Regions from separate parts of the Homo sapiens genome. Here region 1 is linked to region 2. Evidence: fine-mapped expression QTL. A gene starts in region 2. The other region holds a variant in brackets. All regions are shown on one strand. Distances are from middle to middle. Region 1 overlaps TMOD1 (tropomodulin 1). Region 2 holds the start of TMOD1 (tropomodulin 1).

Region 1 (5,369 bases), 73 kb before region 2:
GTCTTGTTCTGTCGCCCAGACTGGAGTGCATAGCACGATCTTGGCTTGCTGCAACCTCTGCCTTCTGGGTTCAAGCGATGCTCCTGCCTCAGCCTCCTGAGTAGCACCACCACGCCCAGCTAATTTTTGTATTTTTAGTAGAGATGGGGTTTTACCATGTTGGCCAGGCTGGTCTTGAACTCCTGACCTCAAGTGATCCACCCACCTCAGCCTCCCAAAGTGCTGGGTTACAGGCATGAGCCACTATGCCCATCCTCATTATTTTCATTTTATAGGCAAAAAAAATTGAAGCACAGAAGTATTAAGAAATTTTTCCCAAATCCTAGCATGGGTCAGTTGCAGGACCAGGATTTGAATACAGGCAGCGAGCTCTAGAGTCTGTGCTGGTTTCCACCTCACTTAAGTGCCTCTGAGAATGACCAGAAGGCAGAAGTAGGACTGACGAGAGGAACTACACGCAGATGGTGTTTGGCTCAGCATGGAGGAATGCCTCTGACCATTAGAAGTGTCCACACGCTGAGGAACTGCCTGGTAAGGTAGTGAGCTGCCTGTGCCTGAAAGTGTGTAAAGGGGGAGAGACCAAGGGGTTGGTCATGCCCGGACTGGCAACAGTCTCTGGGCAGCAGAGCCAGGGACAGGATGGTTGGGAAAGAACTCTCATACTCCTTCAGATTTGCTTGAGAAGTAAAAAACCACTTGTGAATAAATATAACCACATTATTAACAATTCATATGATATTAACACAGATTGAGTAAAAGGAAAGAGTCTCCCTCACCCGATTTATTCCCAGTCCCACCCCCTTCCGTAGAAGTAACCACCATGGGCCAGGCGCGATGGCTCACGCCTGTAATCCCAGCAATTTGGGAGGCCGAGGTGGGCGGATCACAAGGTCAGGAGATCGAGACCATCCTGGCTAACATGGTGAAACCCGGTCTCTACTAAAAAATACAAAAAAAAAAATTAGCTGGACGTGGTGGCGGGCACCTGTAGTCCCAGCTACTCGGGAGGCTGAGGTAGGAGAATGGCGTGAACCTGGGAGGCGGAGCTTGCAGTGAGCCGAGATCGTGCCACTGCACTCCAGCCTGGGCAACAGAGCAAGACTCCGTCTCAAAAAAAGAAAAAAAAAAAAAAGTAACCATCATGGCCAATGAGTTGTGTTTCTATGCATGAAGTATATGACAGAAATGTACAGGGATTTGTTTTGTTTTGTGGTACTTGTTTCTTGTTTAAATGAATTCATACTATACTTACTGTTCTGCAACTTGCCTTTTTCATTTTATTTTAATATTTATTTATTTATTTTTTTGGAGACTGTGTCTCACTCTGTTGCCCAGGCTAGAGTGCAGCAGCACAAAGCAGTGCAATCATAGCTCACTACAGCTTCTGACTCCTGGGCTCAAGTGATCCTCCTGCTCAGCCTCCCAAGTAGCTAGGACTACAGGCACGTGCCACCATGTCTGGCTAATTTCCTTTACTTTTTTTTACAGAGATGGGGTCTTGCTATGTTGACCAGGCTGGTCTTGAACTCCTGGTCTCTAGTGAGCTCCCTCCTTGGCCTCCCAAAGTGCTGGGATTACAGGCATGAGCTGTCATGCCTAGCCCACCTTTTTCATTTAATATTTTGCAGAGCTCTTTCAGAGTCAGTATGTAGAGAATGACCTTATTCCTTCTATTGGCTTCACGGGACGCCCTGGTGTAGATGGATATTTAGGTTACTTCTGTTTTTTCGTGTTACGAACAACGTGGCAGTGGCAGGGGAGGGAGGGGGTATTCCTCAGGCTTCCTACGGAAATCAAAACTGCTAGGTTGAAAGATAGGCGCTTTCAAATTAAAATTGAGACTGCTCTGACAAAAGGATGTAAAAGTCGGCATGCCCTTCAGCAGTGTGTGACAGCTGTGTGTCCTCACACCTTTACCATGTCAGAGCATTACCCATCAGATGAGAAAGAGATCAGATTTGCTCTTGAACAAAATTACCAACCAACACCTTAGGTGTTACAAGGTGTATCCTGGAGCCGGTGGCTCTGAGGCTCCCTTTCTGGCCAGACGCAACAGGAACATCAAGAATCTCACTTTGGACATTTGACGG[A/G]GCCAATTCTGGCCATTCCCAGATGATATGGACAACTGGGAATACTTCAAAACACAACAGAAAGGAGGCCTGGGAATTAGGTTATCCAACTCCAGAGTCCCAGACCCTAACTGACATTAAAATTCCCTCCATCTCCCAGCTGTTTACACACCCCCAGGATGGGAACTCCTCCCCCTTTGAGATACCTGCTCCATCCTGAGGTAGCTTTGCTAGTTATGTGTCCGGAATTGGTGGGTTCTTGGTCTCACTGACTGCAAGAATGAAGCCGCGGACCCTCGAGGTGAGTGTTATAGTTCTTAAAGGCGGTGTGTCCGGAGTTTGTTCCTTCTGATGTTCGGATGTGTTAGGAGTTTCTTCCTTCCGGTGGGTTTGTGGTCTCCTGGATCAGGAGTGAAGCTGCAGGCCTTCGCGGTGAGTGTTACAGCTCTTAAGGCGGAGCCTCTGGAGTTGTTTGTTCCTCCCAGTGGGTTCGTGGTCTCGATGGCTTCAGGAGTGAAGCTGCAGACCTTCGCGGTGAGTGTTACAACTCATAAAGGCAGTGTGGACCCAAAGAGTGAGCAGTGGCAAGATTTATGGCAAACAGAGAAAGAACAAAGTTTCCACAGTGCGGAAGTGGACCCGAGCGGGTTGCCACTGCGTTATCCGGCAGCCTGCTTTTATTCTCTTATCTGGCCCCACCCATATCCTGCTGATTGGTCCATTTTACAGAGAGCCGACTGGTCCATTTTATAGAGAGCTGGTTGGTCTGTTTTGACAGGGTGCTGACTGGTGCGTTTACAATCCCTGAGCTAGACACAAAAGTTCTCCACCTCCCCACTAGATTAGCTAGATACAGAGTGTGGACACAAAAGTTCTCCATGTCCCCACCAGAGTAGCTAGATACAGGTGTCAATTGGTGCATTTGCAAACCCTGAGCTAGACACAGGGTGCTGATTGGTGTGTTTACAAACCTTGAGCTAGATACAGAGTGCTGATTGGTGGATTTGCCATCCCTTAGCCAGACATAAAGATTCTCCAAGTCCCCACCAGACTCAGGAGCCCAGCTGGCTTCACCCAGTGGATCCTGCACCGGGGCCGCAGGTGGAGCTGCCTGCCAGTCCCGCGCCCTGCGCCCGCACTCCTCAGCCCTTGGGTGGTTGATGGGACTGGGCGCCGTGGAGCAGGGGGCGGCGCTTGTCGGGGAGGTTCGGGCCGCTCAGGAGACCACGGCGTGGGGGAAGCTCAGGCATGGCGGGCTGCAGGTCCCGAGCCCTGCCCCGTGGGGAGGCAGCTAAGGCCCGGCGAGAAGTCGAGCACAGCAGCTGCTGGCCCAGGTGCTAAGCCCCTCACTGCCCGGAGCCGGCGGGGTCGGCCGGCCGCTCCGAGTGCGGGGCCCGCCGAGAGCACGCCCACCCGGAACACGCGCTGGCCCGCAAGCGCCGCGCACAGCCCTGGTTCCCGCCGGCGCCTCTCCCTCCACACCTCCCCGCAAGCTGAGGGAGCCGGCTCTGGCCTTGCCCAGCCCAGAAAGGGGCTCCCACAGTGCAGCGGCGGGCTGAAGGGCTCCACAAGCGCGGCCAGAGTGGGCGCCAAGGCTGAGGAGGCGCCGAGAGCGAGGGAGGGCTGTGAGGGCTGCCAGCATGCTGTCACCTCTCAGTTACAGAGGTCTTTCTGGTCAACTCCTGTGACACAAAATAATATAGATAATTCTTACTGTGATGACTTAATATCTGCAAAATTCTTTGATCCTCCCCCCTCCAAAAAGTGGTGTCTGATTTCTCTCCCCTTGAGTGTGGGTTGTGCTTTGTGACTCACTTTTAATAAACAGAATATGGTGGAAATGACTTTGTGTAACTTCCGAGGCTGGGTCATAAAAGGCATCTGAGGCTTTCTTTTTTCTCTGACTTGGCTCACTCACTCTGGGAGAAGTTAGCTGCCATATTGTGAGGACACTCCAACAGCCCTAGGCCGGGTGCACACGGTAAGGTGCTGAGGTCTCCTGCCCACGCTGTGAGGGAGCCATGGTGGAAGCAGTTTCTCCACCTCAGATCATGCACTCTGGGCGAAGTCAGCCAGCCACACTGCTCCTGGATTCCTGGCCCTCAGAAATGGTGAGTTAATACATGTTTATTGTTTTATGCCAGGATTCTGAGGCTGTTTAAGTTGCTATATTTGGGGATAATTTGTTACACAGCTACAAAAAACTGATACAATCGCAACGTTGAGTAAAAAAAGCCAGACACAAATCATCCAATCTGGGAAAACAAGACAGCACAATCCATCTACTTTAACTTCTCTTCAAAATATTAAGCACATCCTCATTGTCAAATATTGGAATAAAAAGTGGGGAATCTGGCCACTACCCCAGACATTATACATATTCTCATTTGTGGGACTCACCCCAGGCCTTGTCTGGCCTGGGGAGCAGGGTCCCTGGTGCCCTGGGGGTCCTGGGGAAGAGCAGCTCTGTGGGGAGTTTGGAGAGTTTGGTGAGAGCAGCACAGAAGCCGTGTGTGGAGATGGCCTGCTTGGCCTGGGCCGGGCCTGCAGGCTCCCTCGGGGCCCACAGGGTTTCTCCCATCCATCCATCAGTGCAGCCAGGATACTGCAGCTCCAACCGAGCTCTGCCACTAACCTGGCCTGTGGCCTCAGGCTAGTCCCATCCCTTCTCTCATCCTCAGTTTCCCCGCTTGTGAAAGGAGGACTGGGCTAGATGTTGTCTCAGTGCCTTCTGGCTCTGGGGTCTGCTCTGCCCTTTCCCAATTCACCATGGTCTTGGCGCAACCACAGGTGGCAACAGAACATTGCTTGGAGATAGAGAGACTATTTGAGTCAACAAACAGCTTCAAAGTCCTGGTTCCCAAACTGTGTCCTGAGCCAGCTCCGTGTCACCCTGGGCAGAACTCCCCAAGTCCCTTTCCCTGGCCGTATAAGGAGAAAGAAGGACAGAGACTTGCTGCCACAGGTTATAAGCACAGGACTGAGGAAAAAGCTCCCGTCTCCAAGGACCTCGGTGACTAACCAGGAATGAGGAATAAAGGAATAAATCAAATGCCACTCGCCACCTCCTCTGTGTCACACTGCCCTGCCTCCCCCCAGCCTGGGGCTGGGGCACCTGAAGGGGAGGCACAGGTGGCCTCCTCCTGAGCCTGAGTCAGCAGAGCCCCCTCCCTGAGACCTGCCTTCAGCCCTTCCCCTGCCGGACCCAACTCCAGTTAGGCAGGAGCGCCTCCCCACAGCCCCCTGGTCCTGGAGGCCATAGCTCCTGGCTGATCTCCTGGGCCCTGATACCCTCTCCTT
Region 2 (5,369 bases):
AAACACTCTTCACAGCCCATCACCATCCTCCATCGCAGATACTGGTCTGCCAGAGACATAGGGGTCTGAGCCAGGATCTGCTTCGTTTTACCTTTTTTTGCTCATTCCAGGGGATGAAGGCCACCTGCAGAGTCTGTGACATTCTGCAAGTCACTAAGGAAGGTCCCCAATCCTCATTATGGGCACACCTTTTAGATTCCCCTTTAACTCTCTCCCCTCTCCTGGGTTCTTCTCACTACTTGCCATACTCTTTATCCTAGAATGCCTGCCTCCCTTCTGTTCCTTGTCCTCAGTTCCTGCTACCTTCCCTCTCCCTTCCTTTCTCATCCAAGCTTTTAGAAAGAGTTGCTGGCTCTGTTGAGAGCCTTCTTCAGCCTACAGCCTGAAGAAGTGGAGAACTTCTTCAGCTCCTGTTAGCTCCTGCCTTTCCCCCTCACCACAACGAATACTATCATTGCAATATCAGGCTCTGGGCTGAGGGCTTGCCCTGAATCATCTCACTTAATTCTCACAAGCAGCCCCTATGAAATGGGGCTATTGTTGTCTCCATTGTATGAGGAGAAAACGAGGCTCAGACAGGCTGGGTCACTGGCAGATCTCATTTTTTGAGCCTGCTGCAATACCCTGGTCTAAGTCACTCATGATCCCTGCCAATCCTGATGGTCTTTTCCCAGTCCTCATCCCCCTACTCCTGTCTCTCCACAGCAAGTGACACTGCCCACCTCTGTCCTCCCTTGGCACCTGGGAAAGCCACTGTCTCTCACTCCTTCCCCAGCTCCTCCTTACAGGATGGGTCATGCTAGAAAGGCTTCCAAGGAAGACTCTAAGCCCTCTCCACTCCAGGTCCACTAGAGACCACCTTGTCTGCCCCCTCATTGCTCAAGGTTCCTCTGAGTGGGTGGCAGAGTTGGGGCTGGAGCCAGATATCCTAACCTCCAGGCCAGTCCACCTCCCATTGCTCAGAGCTGCCACACCTACTTTGTGTTTTCTGTTTTTGCTGAGCTGCAAGAAAACGCCCTACCCTGAAGGAGGGAGAAGGTGTGAGACCCTGATAAGGTGGGGCGGAGGCTATTTTTAGAGGACACTGGCTTTCATCTTAGGCTGGGAGAAACTCAAGGGTCAATGACTCTCTAAAACACGGGTTTGTAAGACTAGCTCATTAAAGATAATACACCAAAGTGACAGTATTCTTGTTTTCACTCTGCCTGTTGGTTGTGTGGCTCTAACTGATGGAAACTTTATTATCTGACTCCATTTCCCGTTAATTCTTTTTTCTGTAAGTCTTTGAGATGGCTTTAGAAAAAAACACATAACAGAAAGTAAAGTAGAAGCAAAAAGGAAACTTCAGGATGAGGGCGCTATTGTCCAGACAAGGTAAAGTCCAGAACAGCAGCAGATTCAAGAAGAGGGGGCATTGATCGGGTGCTCCCAGAGCTCCCGGACCTGCCTGAGCAGTGGGAAGGGTGCGGAAAGAGATGGGAAAGGCTGGGAGACTGCAGAACTTCTGGCGTGACCGGCCCTGTGTGACCTTGAGCAGGGGGCTCTGCGGCCCTGCACAGAGGACAAAATGGCAGTCACCTCTGGAAGAAAGATGGGGTGGGGGCCCTAGGGGTTCTCACGCTGAGGGCCCAGCACCTGGGTTCAGGGTCTGGTTCTGCGATTCAGACACGGAGGAGCTTGGGCCAGGTCGTCTCCGAGAGTCTGAGGGCATAGGGCGAGGGCTGGAGACAGGGTCTGTAATAGTAGCGGTGGGTGAAGGGTGTAGGAGGGGGCGGCGCTGCGCAGGTTGGAGGACGCATCATAGGCCCGATATAGACCGGGAAACTGTGGCCAGGGAGCGGCTGTACTGGAACCACTGCCCCTGCCCAGCTCATCGCATCTGAAGCTGCGTGGCTCACAGGCTGCTTTGCCGGCTACGGAGCAGAGAGATGCCCATAGGCACCCCAAAAGTGCACTTCCTAGGGTTGTACGGCTTAGGATATCCGACGGCCTTAGTGAGTCCCAGGATACGATCGAGTCTGGGGCAGTCAGTCTCCGATTTCTGCAGCGTCTCCGCATGTGCGCGGCTGGGACCCCAGCGTCCCAGGCCCGGAGAGGGTGAACAGGTGTGGGGAGCGCAGGCGGCCAAGAGCGCGCCCTGCAGCTCTCAGGGCTTGGGCTCCCAGCTCCATCGCGGCTACCAAACCTCGCCCCTACAAATGGGAGACTGAGATCCAGAAACAAGAGGGGGATTGCCAAGGCCATGCCGAGAGCCGGCGACAACCTGGGGCTCCCGCCTCCAAGCTCTTTCCAGCTCCACTTGGCCGCGTAGCGCGTGTCGTGGTGCTTTAAACCTTGTCTCTCCCAGTTTGGGAAACTTCACCTGCCCCAAACACTCTCAGCGCGAACCTGGGATCCACGTCCAGTCGAGCCTTTACTCCCCCACTCCCACCCCCAGACTCTTGCAGGCGGAGAAGAGGCCGCGCCCCCGAGCCCAGCTCCGGCTGGCACCTGTACCCAGCTGAGCACCCCGCGGGCTCAGAGCCCCGCCGCGCTGGAGTCCTGCGGGTGGCGGGGGCGCCCCTCCGCCAGGACCCCAGCCCGGGGCGCCGTCTCCTCCAGAACCCCGGGTCCTTCTCGCGTTCACAGACGCGGTGCGGAGGTCCAGAGCGGAGGGCGCCCTGGCCAGGGCTGCGCGCGCGGGGAGGCGGGGACGGGAGCGCTGGGCTCGGAACCCCGAGACCCGGGCTCCCTAGCCCCAGAGGCAACCCGAGGCGGCAGCTATTTATAGAGGGAGCCACGCTCAGTCCCTCTTGGCGGCGGCGGCGACAGCTGAATATTTTGCCCAGATATGGCTGAGGCCCCGGAGCGGGGGCAGGGAGCCCCGCGAGCGCGAGGGGGACCCCAGGCGGGGTGGGGGCTTACCCGGACGCAGAGCTGTGGGGCCGGCGCGGACGCGGGCTGCGGAACAGGCGCGGGCGGCGGGCAGATGGACGCGGGCGGAGGCCGCGGTGCTCCGGCGGGCAGCGGGCGGGCGAGCGCAGCGCGGGGCTGGACGAGCTCCCGGGCGGCCGCGGGCGGGCGGGAGCTGTGGGCTCGGGGGTGGGAGCCAGGGGCGGGCCCGGCTCGGCTGTCACCGCGCCCCGCCCCGCCCGCCGCCGGCTCCCTCCTTCCCCCCCCCTCCACTCGGGGGCGCCCGGGCGCAGCGCACTTCCCCGTCGGGACGCGGCCCTGGGCCGGGAGCGCAGGGGAGTCGGGCTGCAGCCGAGCGAGCGCGGGCCCCTGCCTGGGTCTCCTCCGCTTCCCCGCTGGTACCAGGAAGAGTTTGAGCGACGGTAGAGTTATGTGGGAAAAGGTGGGCAGATTTGCATTCCTGTGGGGTTTAGAATTTAAGATTTTGAGAATCTGAAGTCCCCAGAAGTGATGGACCAAAGCCAGCTAAGCAGCTGCTGCACCTTCACCTCTGATTGAAGCGCCGCTCCGTCCGTTTCCCAGCAGCGCGGCCAGGTGGGCTCTGAGCCGCAAGCTTTAACCGCGATCGTTTTGTCTACACGTAGTTCCAACACGCAATCGAATACATTCTCTCTACACTGAGAGCGAGTGGAGTGTCTAAAATACTGATTTTAAATGACCACAACAAAAAGACCCAAGTTCTTAAAAGGCTTTTTTTTTTTTTTTTTTTTTTCAGAACAAACCACTTTAGGTGGTTTATTCCAAATACAATTTTAAGTGTTTTAATAAACAAATGTCTCATGCAAAGGAATTTATATAGAAATAGGAAAACGTCTTATTTTGGATTATTATGGGAAAGCTTTTGGTAGGGTAGACCTTAATAAAATCAGCTCTTAATCCTGATGTATAGATTATTAATGAGAAACACTCATTAACCAAATTTTGTTTCTCAAGAAAATGAATTTCTCTAAAGTCCTCACAATGAGAACGCTCTTTTCAAGGGGTATATGCCATACATTTAAAAATAAGCAGTGATCTAATATTTCAGATTATTTTAAAACATTTTTGTTGTGAATCGAACATATAAGAACATACAACATAAGTTATGTTGTATGTGTAAACAAAATAAATGTGCAGCTTCATGACTTTTTACAACGTGAACACCTGTGCAACCAGTCACTCAGAGAACATTGCCTACAGCCCAGAAGCCAACCTGTCCCTCCTGGGTCCCAACTCCCTTCTAAAGATGATCACTTTCTTGACCCTTACGGTGATCATGTCCTTGTTTTTTTTCTTCCCTCTGTAGTATGTCTTCATTTGTTCAAATCTGTTGTTAATCTGTGGTTTTATGCAGCTGTAGTTTTTCACTGTATGAATATGCCACAGTTTAAAAAAAAATCCATTTGACTATTAATGGGCATTTAGGTTGTTTCCAGGTTTTAGCTATTACAAATAGTGCTGCTGCGAACATTCCTTGCCAGAATCCTCCTGTCCACGCGCACAGCCTGCTGTTGGAAGTGCTGGGTGATAGAGAAAGCCTAACCTCAACTTCGGCAGAGATAAGCCTGAACTCTTCCAAAGTTATAGTACCATTGTACAGTGCAGTTTCCCATCTTCAACAACACTTGAAGTTACAAAAATTGAAACACTTTAGAAATTCTGATATGTGAGTAATGGTATCTCATTGAGGTTCAAACTTGCATTTCCCTATATCCTAATGTGTTGAGTATCACTTCATATTTATTGGCCAGTTGGATTTGTTTTGTGAATTGTTCAGATTTATTGTCCATTTTTCTTCTGGATAGTCCTGTGTATTGAATAGATTCAATGGTGTGTGTATCCTCAGTTATATTCCACTCTTTTGCCTTTTCACCTTATTAACGTATTTTGATAAACAGGTGTTCTTAAATACAGTCTGGCAATCTTTTCCCTTATTGGCAGCACTCTGTGTCCTGTTTAAGAACTCTTTCCTGTTCCTGGGTTATAAAGTTATCTTCCTATGTTATCTTCCCACCTTAGCCTTTCATGTTTAGGTTTTTTGTTTGTTTGTTTTTGTTTTTGTTTTTGAGATAGAGTCTTGCGCTTTGTTGGCCAGGCTGGAGTAAAGTGGTGTGATCACGGCTCATTGCAGCCTCAACCTCCTGGGCTCAAGCCAACCCCTTAACCCCCACATCAGCCCCTCAAAGTGCTGGGATTACAGGCATGAGCCACCATGCCCAGCTATTTAAAAAAATGTTTTTTGTAGAGATAGGGGACTTGCTATATTGCCCAGGCTGGTCTGAAACTCCTATGCTCAAGCAATCCTCCCGCCTCAGCCTCCCAAAGTGCTGGTATTACAGGCGCGAGCCACTGTGCCCAGCCTCATGTTTAGTTTTTTGTTTTTTTTTTTTGTTTGTTTGTTTTTTTTTTTTGAGACAGGGTCTCTGTCATCCAGGCTG

What was found. PIP is the estimated chance that this variant, and not a neighbour inherited with it, causes the effect. A credible set is the group of variants that fine-mapping cannot tell apart.
Region 1: its variant is the best candidate, but not a certain one, in a credible set for the expression of TMOD1 in monocytes (Fairfax 2014, PIP 0.87).

What each region holds. Positions count from the first base shown.
Region 1 is chr9:97,572,393-97,577,761 of GRCh38, reverse strand. The region is part of intron 8 of TMOD1 (tropomodulin 1); the gene reads right to left. Among named protein-coding and RNA genes, the nearest start is that of TSTD2, 58 kb to the left of the region's middle. RefSeq lists a silencer at 4,712-4,951. The variant A/G (reference allele first, on the strand shown) is at 2,091.
Region 2 is chr9:97,499,339-97,504,707 of GRCh38, reverse strand. TMOD1 (tropomodulin 1) reads right to left here and starts at 3,042. Exons shown (of 10, transcript NM_003275.4): 1 at 2,905-3,042. RefSeq lists a cis regulatory region at 1,039-1,056, an enhancer at 975-1,119 and a silencer at 2,506-3,225.